3 linked regions of the Homo sapiens genome follow. The protein of the gene in region 2 interacts with the protein of the main gene of each other region in a pairwise test. Each region holds a gene or a part of one and is shown on either strand. Other genes may lie near its edges.

Region 1 (3,746 bases), on a different chromosome or scaffold from region 2:
CAACTACTATTTACTGAATTCCTCTCATAGCTCAGGCCTTGTCCTTGATATATTAACTTATATGTTCTGTACAATCTCAAAAACAATCTTGCAGTTTTCATGAGGCATTTGTAGAGGCCTAATATGAAGGAATATAGTGGGACATAGAGTATAGTGGATTTCTGTGGGTTTACCTGGCTTTGGTTACTGCTGTTGGTGTTAGAGAATTATGCATATCAAAGATAATGATGGTGCATTTATCAGGAAAGAACAGAGCTACTATCAGCCACCAGAGACTAGCATGGGAGAGTTTCTGTAGGAGGTAGTGTTGATACAGACTCTTGAGAGGACACTGTGAAATTGGTATTTTCTGGGCTGACTTCACAGATGTTCACATATAACCATCCTGCCCACAGAGAGTTATGAAATAGCTATGTGAGTGCACAAGGTAGCTATTGCGCAAACCAAAGTTGTCAGGTACTGCACATATTGTGAAGGGACTATGATGGGACACCGTGTGGTTCAAAGAGCACTGGAGCCCTGGTACATCCTGAGAGTCTTGGGGAGAAAAAGGGGAACACGCATTTGGGGGCCTGAAAGATCTTTCTCTCTGCTTGACTGCAGGGCAGGTTTCTGTCCCTCCCTGTTCTGTGGTATAGATTTTGTCTTTTCCACATCAGTCCAGGTCTTCAGAGTCACTATGAATTATTATTACCATTTTAAAGATGAAGAAATTGAGCCTCAGTGAGGTTCAGTTAGCTAAAGGCACACAACTCTAATAAACTGACAGAATTCCAGGTTCTGATTTAAATTCTATTGCCCTCTCTTGAAAATAAACATGGACAGCTTATATGAGCTTTTGTGTATATATTTTCTGGTCTAAATCTGCGGCAGATATGTGTGTCTTTCTGCGCATGTATATAGTAGATCAAATATGTTAGCTCTATTGACATTTCTTAGAAATAAATATCCTGTTATCAATGATAGTGTTTACAAATTATTTATTTAGAACTTACCTCTTTTCAAGAAAAGGCCTTGTGATTGCTCTCTGCGAATTATAATGCATGAGTATACCTCTTTGTTATTTTGTTTTGTTTCAGACAATTATCTCTGGTTGATGCAGATCACTTGGAGGCTTTTGGGGCTGTATATAACAGGTCAGAACATCTATTTAATGTCAAACTTTATCTACTAGGCAACTTGGAATTCTCAGCCAGCACCAAATATTCAAATCCAACTTCCACACCCCGACAACAGAGGGGTTCCGGGTGTAGGTGTAGTGCTGGTGCACCCATGAGGGTGTTTTTCAGGAATTCTGGAGGTGGTGCTGGAGAGAACACGCTTCTTCTACACGCGCCCCCTACCAGTTTGGTATGCACCTGCAGCCCCAAAGAAGAACTGGCGGGACTCGAGTGTGGCCGTGTCAGACGTGGCAAGAAAAACCAGCAGTTGCCTTTTCATCTCTTTTCTGATGATCTAACCATGAAGTCCCCAGTATTTGAGCATTTAAGGCAGAATGTAAATTCATAATTTAAGAAGATTTTTTGTTACGTGGCTAGCCCAGGTACTGACCGCTGCGGGGGCGGGCTCACACAGTTCCCCCGCTGGCAAGTTTTGTGACTTGCTTTGGAAAACCCGGGAATTGCACCCTCTGCCCTTGGCAAGGTGTGAGCTTCCAGGATCTCTCCGCTGCGACTTCGGGTGTTAGGGTTTTTGGGCTCTTTCCGGGACCCAAGTTCCAGGGCAAGAAGGTCTGCTCGGCGGCCCGCCTCGGGGCCCCGCCCACTTTGGCCAGGGTCGGAGCCGCCCGGAGCGGGAGCCGGAGCCCGAGCGGCCGCGGCCCCTTTAAGGAGCAGCTCTGCGGTAACCCGAGCCCGCAGTCCGGGCGGGCGCGACGGCCGCCGCGGTAGCTGGAGCCTCCGCGACTGCACCTCCAAGCGGCCCGGAACCCGCGGCTTCCCTGGCTCCCGTGAGCATCTCACCGGGCGGCACTGGCCAGCGCCAGCCCTCGGGCCGGCCCGGATGAGCAGACTCCTGTAGACACCCGCCGCCCTCTCCCGGCTCGGCGCAGCCGCCGCCCGCGCGCGACTCGCCCCGGGACCCGGCACAGGTGACGCCGTTTGGAGGGGGGGTTGGGGAGGAAGGCGGGCTTGCCTCGCCCCGCGGCTCCCCCGCGCCAGCCGCCAAGCGCAGCCCGCGGAGAGGGGTGCCGCGGCTTCCCGCCCCTGGCCTAGCGCGGCCGAGAGCTCCTGCGCCTGGAGGCTGGGTGGGCGTCCGGCGCGCGGGAGGCGGCCCGGGGCTCCCGGGCGGGCTCCGGCAGGTGTGTGCGGAAGGCTCAGCATCGTCCCCGCCCGGCGGGCCACGGCGTCGCTCCGGGAGCAAATGGTGTCCCGGGGCCCGCGGCCCCCGCGCCGCCCGGGCGCCCCGCATTCCTCTCGCGTTTCTCGGGCTGCACGATTCCGGCTGCCCTGTCTGCCTGGCGGTGCCTCTCGGGTCTGAGCTTAAAGCGGGTGGGTGCAAACCTTTGGGCATCCAGGGAGAGCTTTCTTGTTAGAGCCCACACACAATCGGGCGCATCAAGTGGGTAAGTCCCCCTCCCCCGCCGCCACCTTCTGAAACAAGTAGCTCTTATTTACCCTTGCAGTTCTCAAGTGGGTCCCATTTTTAGCCACTGAGTGCTGAAAAGTCTAGTGGGAAGGGACCAGGCGTAGAGTCGGAGGGAGAAATTGGTTTCTATTTCCATCTTTACCTCTGTAACCCCTAAGTGCCTCGGTTTACCCAGCCATGAAATGGGATTCGTAATGCCAGCAGTTTCCTACCCCTCCAAGACGGCAGAAAAACCTCTGTGAAAACACTTTGAGTCTAAATTCATTTAAGAGTCGCTGTTGCTGGTCTGTATATTTTTAATTGTACACACATTTGAGTGTTAATGTGGTGCACACTTTTATATGAAATTATGAAATTTACTTTAAAGACTGATCTTGGATAATGTTTAATCCAAATACCAGTTTGGAGAAGATGGAAGAGTTTGTGTGGACCCTAGGAATTGATGTGTGAAATAGGAAAAAAGATTTAATAAAATCTTTACGCAGTCATAAATGGAGTTGAGAAAAATTGACCTTGGATTGTGGTGTTTTAAGTGAGTTACTCCCGTGCCAGCGCATGGTGTCGATTGAAATGTAGCTTCATCTTTGTGTAGCCGATTAAGGTAATAAGTTAGAGAATCCCAGCTCCCTTTTAATTGTGCTATATATGAGGAATTTTTATCCTTGCTTATCTTTTCCTTAAATTGGGCGAAACGAAATTAGAAAAGTGTATTCCCGCCGTGTTAGAAAATATGAAAGAATGGGTGAAGAACCATGGATTTTAGTTTATTTGCCACGCCCCTCCTGTGCCATCTGATAACCCAGAGAATATTTTGAGGGTGCTTCTTTTTTTTTCTACGCCTGCAACTCCTTTTGTCCCATTACCTCCCTCTGGAGTTTGAATCTTTACTGTCCTCATCCTTGAGATGAATTTTATCTGTTTAGGCTGGATGCCTCTGACCCAGCTGCCCAATCAGTCATTATTTATTTACAGTATTAGATTTCCATTTATATTCATTTCACTCTAAGCCTTCTTTACCCTGGTGGAAAGAATAATGGGTCTTTGCTACTAATGCTTTATACTTGGAGGTGAACTAGGAATGGCATGCTCAAGGTGCTGAGACTAATGCAAACCCCAGGGAAGCTAGGTCTTCACTGGAGTCTTCTGAATAGGTCCTGGAG
Region 2 (3,746 bases):
CTACTTCATGATTGAGGGCATTAAGGGAAATGAGGCTGGCTTTTTACTTGTAGTACTCTACAACAGTAGGAAAACATGTCTAGTCTTTCTGGAGGGGCTAATGGGAAGAATTGCAAGAACTGCTTAGAGAGTGAGAGATGGGATGAGGCAGGACAAGAGGGTGTTCCAGCATACATCATTTTCTCCTTAAAGAACCAACTTCTCTGTCTTCTTTCCATTTGGAGTTATAGGTATTGTTCTAAGGCCTCCAGATTATTCAGTCCTTATGCCTTGTAGCTTTTTGGAAAAAGAGGGTCTTTGGAGGCCAAGCAGGCTGGCTGGCGGAATCATGGCTCATGCTGGGCTGGCTAGTTTTTCCCTTAATTCTTGCTTCTCAGATGTATGTCCCTGGGAAGCTGCATGATGTGGAACACGTGCTCATCGATGTGGGAACTGGGTACTATGTAGAGAAGGTGAGTGAGAGCATGTGGATGCCCCTCTAAACAGGGAAGGGAAATTCAGGGGAAGCTCTAGAGCGCAGCATGGCCAGAGGGAGTCTCCTTTTAGCCCCTTATTCACCTCTGATCTTGTAGACAGCTGAGGATGCCAAGGACTTCTTCAAGAGGAAGATAGATTTTCTAACCAAGCAGATGGAGAAAATCCAACCAGCTCTTCAGGAGAAGCACGCCATGAAACAGGGTAAGTTTTTCCTGGGGCACCTCTTGACCCTATCTCCATAATAAGGAACATGGATTGCAGTGTGAACCACGGGGGTGTCCCCTTTGCTGGAGTAAAACTATGTCTTAGTTTCTCTTTGGCATCTTTAGAATCTGTGTATTGCATAATCACTATCTGTAGATTCCTGGGTTGAGCGTTTGAGAAATTTAGAGGAAGGAAATCATGTTTGTGCTTTGGTGGAGCTCCTATTTAATGACGATGGAATGGGGGAATGAGATGAACACACAGGAAGGAATCATGATCCAAACGAACTAAATACCAGCAATTATAACCCCGACTGCACATGAGAATCACTCAGGAAGTTTAAAAAGAAAGCTTGGGCCCATTCCAGATTGACTAAATCAACTTGGAAGTCAAAGGAGGGGAAGTTGTACCAAGGTCTGTTTTTTTTTAAAAAAGCTCCCCTCTGTTATAATCAGGATTCAGAACCAGTGTTCCAAAGGTAAAAATCTTTCCCCATCATAGTTTTCTGATTATGTCAGACTCATTTAATACCATATTGTGTTCGTTTTTATATCTTTGGTTAGCAGGTTTTTTTTTTTTCCGAGAAGAGTCTCATTCTCACCACACCCAGCTGTGTTAGCATATTGACCGATGCATTGTAGACCCTAAATTTGTGTTAGTGACCCCACAGTGGATCACTGAGTTAAAGTTTTATTAACAATGCCAGGCGCAGTGGCTGACGCCTGTAATCCCAGCACTTTGGGAGGCCAAGGCAGGTGGATCACCTGAGGTTAGGAGTTCAAGACCAGCCTGGCCACCATGGTGAAACCCCATCTCTACTAAAAATACAAAGTTAGCCCGGGCATGGTGGTGCATGCCTGTAATCCCAGCTGTTCGGGAGGATGAGGCAGGAGAATCGCTTGAACCCGGGAGACGGAGGTTGCTGTGAGCCAAGATCGTGCCACTGCACTCCAGCCTCGGTGACAAGAGCAGGATTCTGTCTCAAAAAAAAAAAAAAAAGGTTATTAACAAACTGTAGTTAGTCGGTCGCCTGTCCTTAAACTTGCCTGTCACTTCTCCTTAACTCTAGGTTCTCCTTTTTGCTTCTAACCTTTGACTCTTATTTTTTTCCACAGCCGTCATGGAAATGATGAGTCAGAAGATTCAGCAGCTCACAGCCCTGGGGGCAGCTCAGGCTACTGCTAAGGCCTGAGAGTTTTTGCAGAAATGGGGCAGAGGGACACCCTTTGGGCGTGGCTTCCTGGTGATGGGAAGGGTCTTGTGTTTTAATGCCAATAAATGTGCCAGCTGGGCAGAATGTTGGTCTTTTCTTGGATTAAGCAAGGGACTGGTGATGAGATGGGGGGTGTGGTCGAGAGTGTGGGCCCCGTCTCAGAGCCTGATGCGCAGGGGTGATGCGATGCGCCTCTTGGAGGCTCCATCGCAGGGCCCTTTGACCAGCTGGAAGAAATCCTAGGCTGGGAGTCTGCTGCTGCTCACTCTGCAGAGCTGGTTGCCAAGGGAACGGTTGGCAAGCGGAAGTGGGGCTGCGCTGGCGCTTCCTCTTCCGGGTCGGCGCTCCTGCCTCCCTGCAGGGAGCTGCTTATGGGACACCAATTCCTGCGCGGCCTCTTAACGCTGCTGCTGCCGCCGCCACCCCTGTATACCCGGCACCGCATGCTCGGTCCAGAGTCCGTCCCGCCCCCAAAACGATCCCGCAGCAAACTCATGGCACCGCCCCGAATCGGGACGCACAATGGCACCTTCCACTGCGACGAGGCACTGGCATGCGCACTGCTTCGCCTCCTGCCGGAGTACCGGGTACGGTCCGCGAAAAGTGACCCTGGGACTGCGTGCATGCATGCCTCCGGGGTGGATGGCATTCCGCCAACAGGGTCACTCCGATAGCGCCCGGCAGCCCAAGCACCCTTCCTACCCTTCCTGCCTCCCTGAAGTCCAGCATTAATCCCCTACCCGGCGACACCCGGCAGCCCCTTCACCCCTGTGTACCTCGCAGGATGCAGAGATTGTGCGGACCCGGGATCCCGAAAAACTCGCTTCCTGTGACATCGTGGTGGACGTGGGGGGCGAGTACGACCCTCGGAGACACCGATATGACCATCACCAGAGGTAGGTTCTCAGATACCATTTATTTAACTTCCTTGACCTCAGCTTTCCTCTGTGCTCCAATTCAGCCATCCACTGCCGTAGTCCGCGTCAGCGAAAAGAACTGCTTCATCACTGAAATCAAACTCCCACTAGGACTACATCATCCTTCCGGCCCTGCCTGTTCTTCACCCATCTCCCTGGCCTGGGACCTCCTTTGGTTCCCAGGGAGTCCCTCAGGCCCCTTATCTCATCTCCTTCCTTAGCCAAGGCTTTTTTTCCATCAGCAACTTCATCACCCCAACTAAATAAACCCATCTGTGATTAATCCATTCTGGTGCCCTTGCTGCTGCACCTAACTGCTGGGCCCACATGATTGTGGCAGTTGGTGACAGTTCAGATGTGTGAAGTTTTCTACTTCATTTACACCCTTCCAAAGGGAAATCCTTCTTGCTCAAGGGTAGCCCATTCCAATCCTTTTCTTCTCCCTCAAGCCTCTACCGCATCAAACTGAGTGTCCCTGCCTCTTTTCAAAAGAAGTTGAGCATTTCCTCAGTCTCCCACCTCAAACATCCTCAGCTCCCTCCTACCAACTAAGGGAAATTTCTTCCCTTCTATTGGAGGTTAATCCTCTGTCCTGTTTCCAGTCTATTACTTTCTTCTCTGGGATTCTTTTTTCTTTTCTTTTTTTTTTTTTTTGAGACGGAGTCTCCCACTGTCGCCCAAGCTGGAGTGTAGTGGCACGATCTCGGCTCACTGCAACCTCTGTCTCCCAGGTTCAAGCGATTCTCCTGTCTCAGCCTCCCGAGTAGCTGGGACTACAGGCACCCACCACCACACCCGGCTAATTTTTGTATTTTTAGTAGAGACGGGTTTCACCATATTGGCCAGAGTGGTCTCGAACTCCTGGCCTTGTGATCTGCCCCGCCTTGGCCTCCCAAAGTGCTGGGATTACAGGTGTGAGCCACTGTTGGCCTATC
Region 3 (3,746 bases), on a different chromosome or scaffold from region 2:
AAGAAAGCGTAGAGGGGATTCTGTCTCCCCACAACTTTACATGTGTCCGGTAGGACTGCCCCTTTCAGGCAGCCCCAGGCTTGAATGCTCGTCCAGAGGGGAGGAGACGGTGGTAAAGGATCAAGGGCCTCCTTCTGGCAGGGCAGGCGAGAAACCTGGCAAAGCTCCCTTCCTGCTGCCGTCTCAGCCTCCGCAAAGACTGGGAGTACCATGGAGTACCGGGGGGGAAATATGGAGTACTGCCGAGGAACGTGGGAGCCACAGAGAGAGGCGCCGCACTGGTGAGGGCAGGGACCGCAGCCCTCCCCACGCGCCCCCAGCAAGCTCAGGTCTCCAGCGAAAGCTGAGTAACTGAGCCGGGGGAACACCAGGAGAGAGAACGGGGTGCGGGAATGGAGTCATACTGAGGACCCAGAGTACAAGAAAAGAGATCCAGAGTGACAGGAGAGAGTGTGAGTGGTGAGCAGAGTCACAGTGAAGGTCTCAGGGGGCAGTGGGGATCAGAAGGAAAAAGACCTGAAATACCACGAGAAGAGGCCCGGAGTAACGCAGGGGGCAGGGAAACATCGAGGGGCCCGGAGTTACGTGGGGCGTAGAATGACGCTGGGGAAGCCCGAAGTGACAGCAAGACCCAAGCAACTAGGGAGGGCGACCGGAGGAACTGTGGAGGATGCTCGGAGCCCCTGGGGCGGAGGAGCACGCGGGGACGCCTCCAGACAGCCGTCCAGCTCTGGCATAACCCGACGAGCCGGGCGCTCCGGGAAGGGGCACGCCGCCCGCCCCGCCCCGTACTCACCGGGCCCCGCGGCCCCGTCCATCCGGCCCCCGGGTTGCTCCGAGCGGCGGCGGCGGAGGAGGCGTCTAAGCCGCGGGGGCCACGGCCGGGGAGAGGGGAAGGGGAAGCACCCCGGGGCGCGCGCGAAGGGCGCCGTACCACCACCCCGAGGGGGCGCTGTCGGGCGCGGGGAAGGGGCCTGGAGGGGGCGCTGTGGGCCCGGGGCCGCAGTCTCCAGACCCCCCCGGGCCCTCGGACTCTCCCGGGGCCGCTCTCGGCTCCCGGGGGTGGGGTGGCAGGGCCGTCCGGTGCCACAGCGCCGCAGCACAAACAGGCGCCGGACGCGGAGCCGCCAGGAAGCGCGGGAGGGGGGGCGGGCCCGAGGGGGGGCCGGGCCGCTTGGTAACCCCTCCCTGTCCGGGCCTCGCCGCTCAGTACGGGGGCGGGGCTAGCCGGCTGACCCCCTGGCCTACTCCCGGCCTCCGGCTCCAGGCCCTTCCCGGATCCCCGCCCCCGGATTCCCAGGGGACGGGGAAGGGAGCGCCCGCCCCGATATCTCCGCCCCCCAGCCCCTAACCCCTCAGGGTTGAGCGGACCAACCCCACCACTTCCGCGAGGGGCAGGGGCGGGGTCACAAAACGGGCCCTCGGCCTAGGGGCGGAGTTTCTCGTAAGGGGCAAGGCCAAGGCATCTTGTATTGGGGCTGACAGGGGGGCGGGTTATTAGGGCTGAGGATGGGAGGATGCTCAGGGTATTGGGGTCAGGGTGGCATTAGCCCAGCTCAAGCCGGGCCGGGCTGACTCAGCATCCTGCCCCAGCCAGCTTCCATCCCTGACACCTCTGCATTCCCTTGGGCAGAGATGGGAGATGGCGCCGGTGTTGCCCCTGGTGCTGCCCCTGCAGCCCCGCATCCGCCTGGCACAAGGGCTCTGGCTCCTCTCCTGGCTGCTGGCGCTGGCTGGTGGCGTCATCCTCCTCTGTAGTGGGCACCTCCTGGTCCAGCTAAGGCACCTTGGCACCTTCCTGGCTCCCTCCTGTCAGTTCCCTGTCCTGCCCCAGGCTGCCCTGGCAGCGGGCGCGGTGGCTCTGGGCACAGGACTAGTGGGTGTAGGAGCCAGCCGGGCAAGTCTGAATGCAGCTCTATACCCTCCCTGGCGAGGGGTCCTGGGCCCGCTGCTGGTGGCTGGCACGGCTGGTGGGGGGGGGCTCCTGGTCGTCGGCCTCGGGCTAGCCCTGGCTTTGCCTGGGAGTCTGGATGAGGCGCTGGAGGAGGGCCTGGTGACTGCCTTGGCTCACTACAAGGACACAGAGGTGCCTGGGCACTGTCAGGCCAAAAGGCTGGTGGATGAGCTGCAACTGAGGTACCACTGCTGCGGGCGCCACGGGTACAAGGATTGGTTTGGGGTCCAGTGGGTCAGCAGCCGTTACCTGGATCCCGGTGACCGGGATGTGGCTGAGTGAGTGATTTGCGTCTCCCTTCCTCCTCCTCCTCCTCCCTGGACAGGCTCCCTCCTGCTGCCTTGAATCCCCACCTCGCTCAGAGGGGCAATAAGTAGAACATAGTGGCTGAGAGACTGGTTACAGCTCTGCCATTTATTAGCTGTGAAACCCAGGGCATGTTACCAAACCACCCTGGGCCCATTCCTTCACCTGTAAAATGGAAATAATAGTACTTATCTGATAGAGTTGTTGTGAAGATGTGAATTATGCTTGGCTGGCACATAGTACAGCAGTCAGTAAATGTTTTACTATTCTTTTTCCCTTCTGAACACCTGTGCCCTTCAGTCCCTCCCCCAGGCCTCTATCTCCAGACATCCTAACCCCTCTGTCCCTCCCTTTGCAGCCGGATCCAGAGCAATGTAGAAGGCCTATACCTGACTGATGGGGTCCCTTTCTCCTGTTGCAACCCCCACTCACCCCGGCCTTGCCTGCAAAACCGTCTTTCAGACTCCTACGCCCACCCCCTGTTCGATCCCCGACAACCCAACCAAAACCTCTGGGCCCAAGGGTGCCATGAGGTGCTGCTGGAGCACTTGCAGGACTTGGCAGGCACACTGGGTAGCATGCTGGCTGTCACCTTCCTACTGCAGGTGAGTCAGCAAAGCATCTGACACCTCCTCCCACCCGGGACTCCTCCCTGCCTCCAACCCTGGGCCTCTTGGAACCGCTGACTCTCCCTGACTCTTTCCCCTTGCTTCCCCCACAGGCTCTGGTGCTCCTTGGCCTGCGGTACCTGCAAACAGCACTGGAGGGGCTTGGAGGGGTCATTGATGCGGGAGGAGAGACCCAGGGCTATCTCTTTCCCAGTGGGCTGAAAGATATGCTGAAAACAGCATGGCTACAGGGAGGGGTTGCCTGCAGGCCAGCACCTGAGGAGGCCCCACCAGGAGAAGCACCTCCCAAGGAGGATCTATCTGAGGCCTAGAGGCCTGGAGCTTGGGGTGAGGAAGAGGGAGGGATGGACAAGTCTGAAAACCTCACAACTCCTTACCAAGGCTCCAGGTTGGGGGGATCGTAGGATTAGAGGGGCTAAGGATAGTCAGCGAGCTGGACTGGGGTAAGAAAGAAAACCAGATGTCCTAGGGCCTAGCCCTTGTAGTCAGAACCACCAGGGAACAGCAAAGAACAGAGTGATGGGAAAGTGACATGAGAAGGCCTGGAGGCTGATTCTGATATAGACTCAATAAAGTTTTTGGATGGAAGCAATTGCTTTTTCTTGTCAAGGGGATGGGGGCCTGGGAGAACTGATTTCTGTCTGATGGAGCAGCTAGGACTCCAAAGTTTGGACCCTGGCTCGACCTGTGCAGCAACAGGAGCCCACATCTGTAAGGATCAGAAAGCAAGAACCCAATGTAAGAAGCAAAGGAAAACAAGAGGCCCCTCCAGGTTGAGATTCTTTATTCTGGAGGTAGGAAGGGGGTCAGCATGCTCAGGTGGGAAGGGTCCAGCCCAGCTCCTCCAGCCCCCCAGT

The links.
Region 1: the proteins of MYG1 (region 2) and TLCD4 interact in binary tests that used the Homo sapiens proteins (3 or more experiments, as listed by UniProt).
Region 3: the proteins of MYG1 (region 2) and ROM1 interact in binary tests that used the Homo sapiens proteins (3 or more experiments, as listed by UniProt).

Annotation. Positions count from the first base shown.
Region 1 is NC_000001.11:95,115,529-95,119,274, forward strand, and holds the start of TLCD4 (TLC domain-containing protein 4), read left to right. Parts: upstream 1-1,826; 5' UTR 1,827-2,089; intron 2,090-2,394; exon of another isoform or gene 2,395-2,563; intron 2,564-3,746.
Region 2 is NC_000012.12:53,297,473-53,301,218, forward strand, and holds the start of MYG1 (MYG1 exonuclease precursor), read left to right. Parts: upstream 1-2,222; 5' UTR 2,223-2,265; coding exon 2,266-2,481; intron 2,482-2,677; coding exon 2,678-2,790; intron 2,791-3,746. Other genes in the region: PFDN5 (prefoldin subunit 5), read left to right, coding at 378-452, 573-678, 1,797-1,873. UniProt on the Homo sapiens protein: 3'-5' RNA exonuclease which cleaves in situ on specific transcripts in both nucleus and mitochondrion. Involved in regulating spatially segregated organellar RNA processing, acts as a coordinator of nucleo-mitochondrial crosstalk.
Region 3 is NC_000011.10:62,611,640-62,615,385, forward strand, and holds ROM1 (rod outer segment membrane protein 1), read left to right. Parts: upstream 1-1,617; 5' UTR 1,618-1,642; coding exon 1,643-2,232; intron 2,233-2,618; coding exon 2,619-2,865; intron 2,866-2,981; coding exon 2,982-3,200; 3' UTR 3,201-3,477; downstream 3,478-3,746. Other genes in the region: EML3 (echinoderm microtubule-associated protein-like 3), read right to left, coding at 41-212. UniProt on the Homo sapiens protein: Plays a role in rod outer segment (ROS) morphogenesis. May play a role with PRPH2 in the maintenance of the structure of ROS curved disks. Plays a role in the organization of the ROS and maintenance of ROS disk diameter.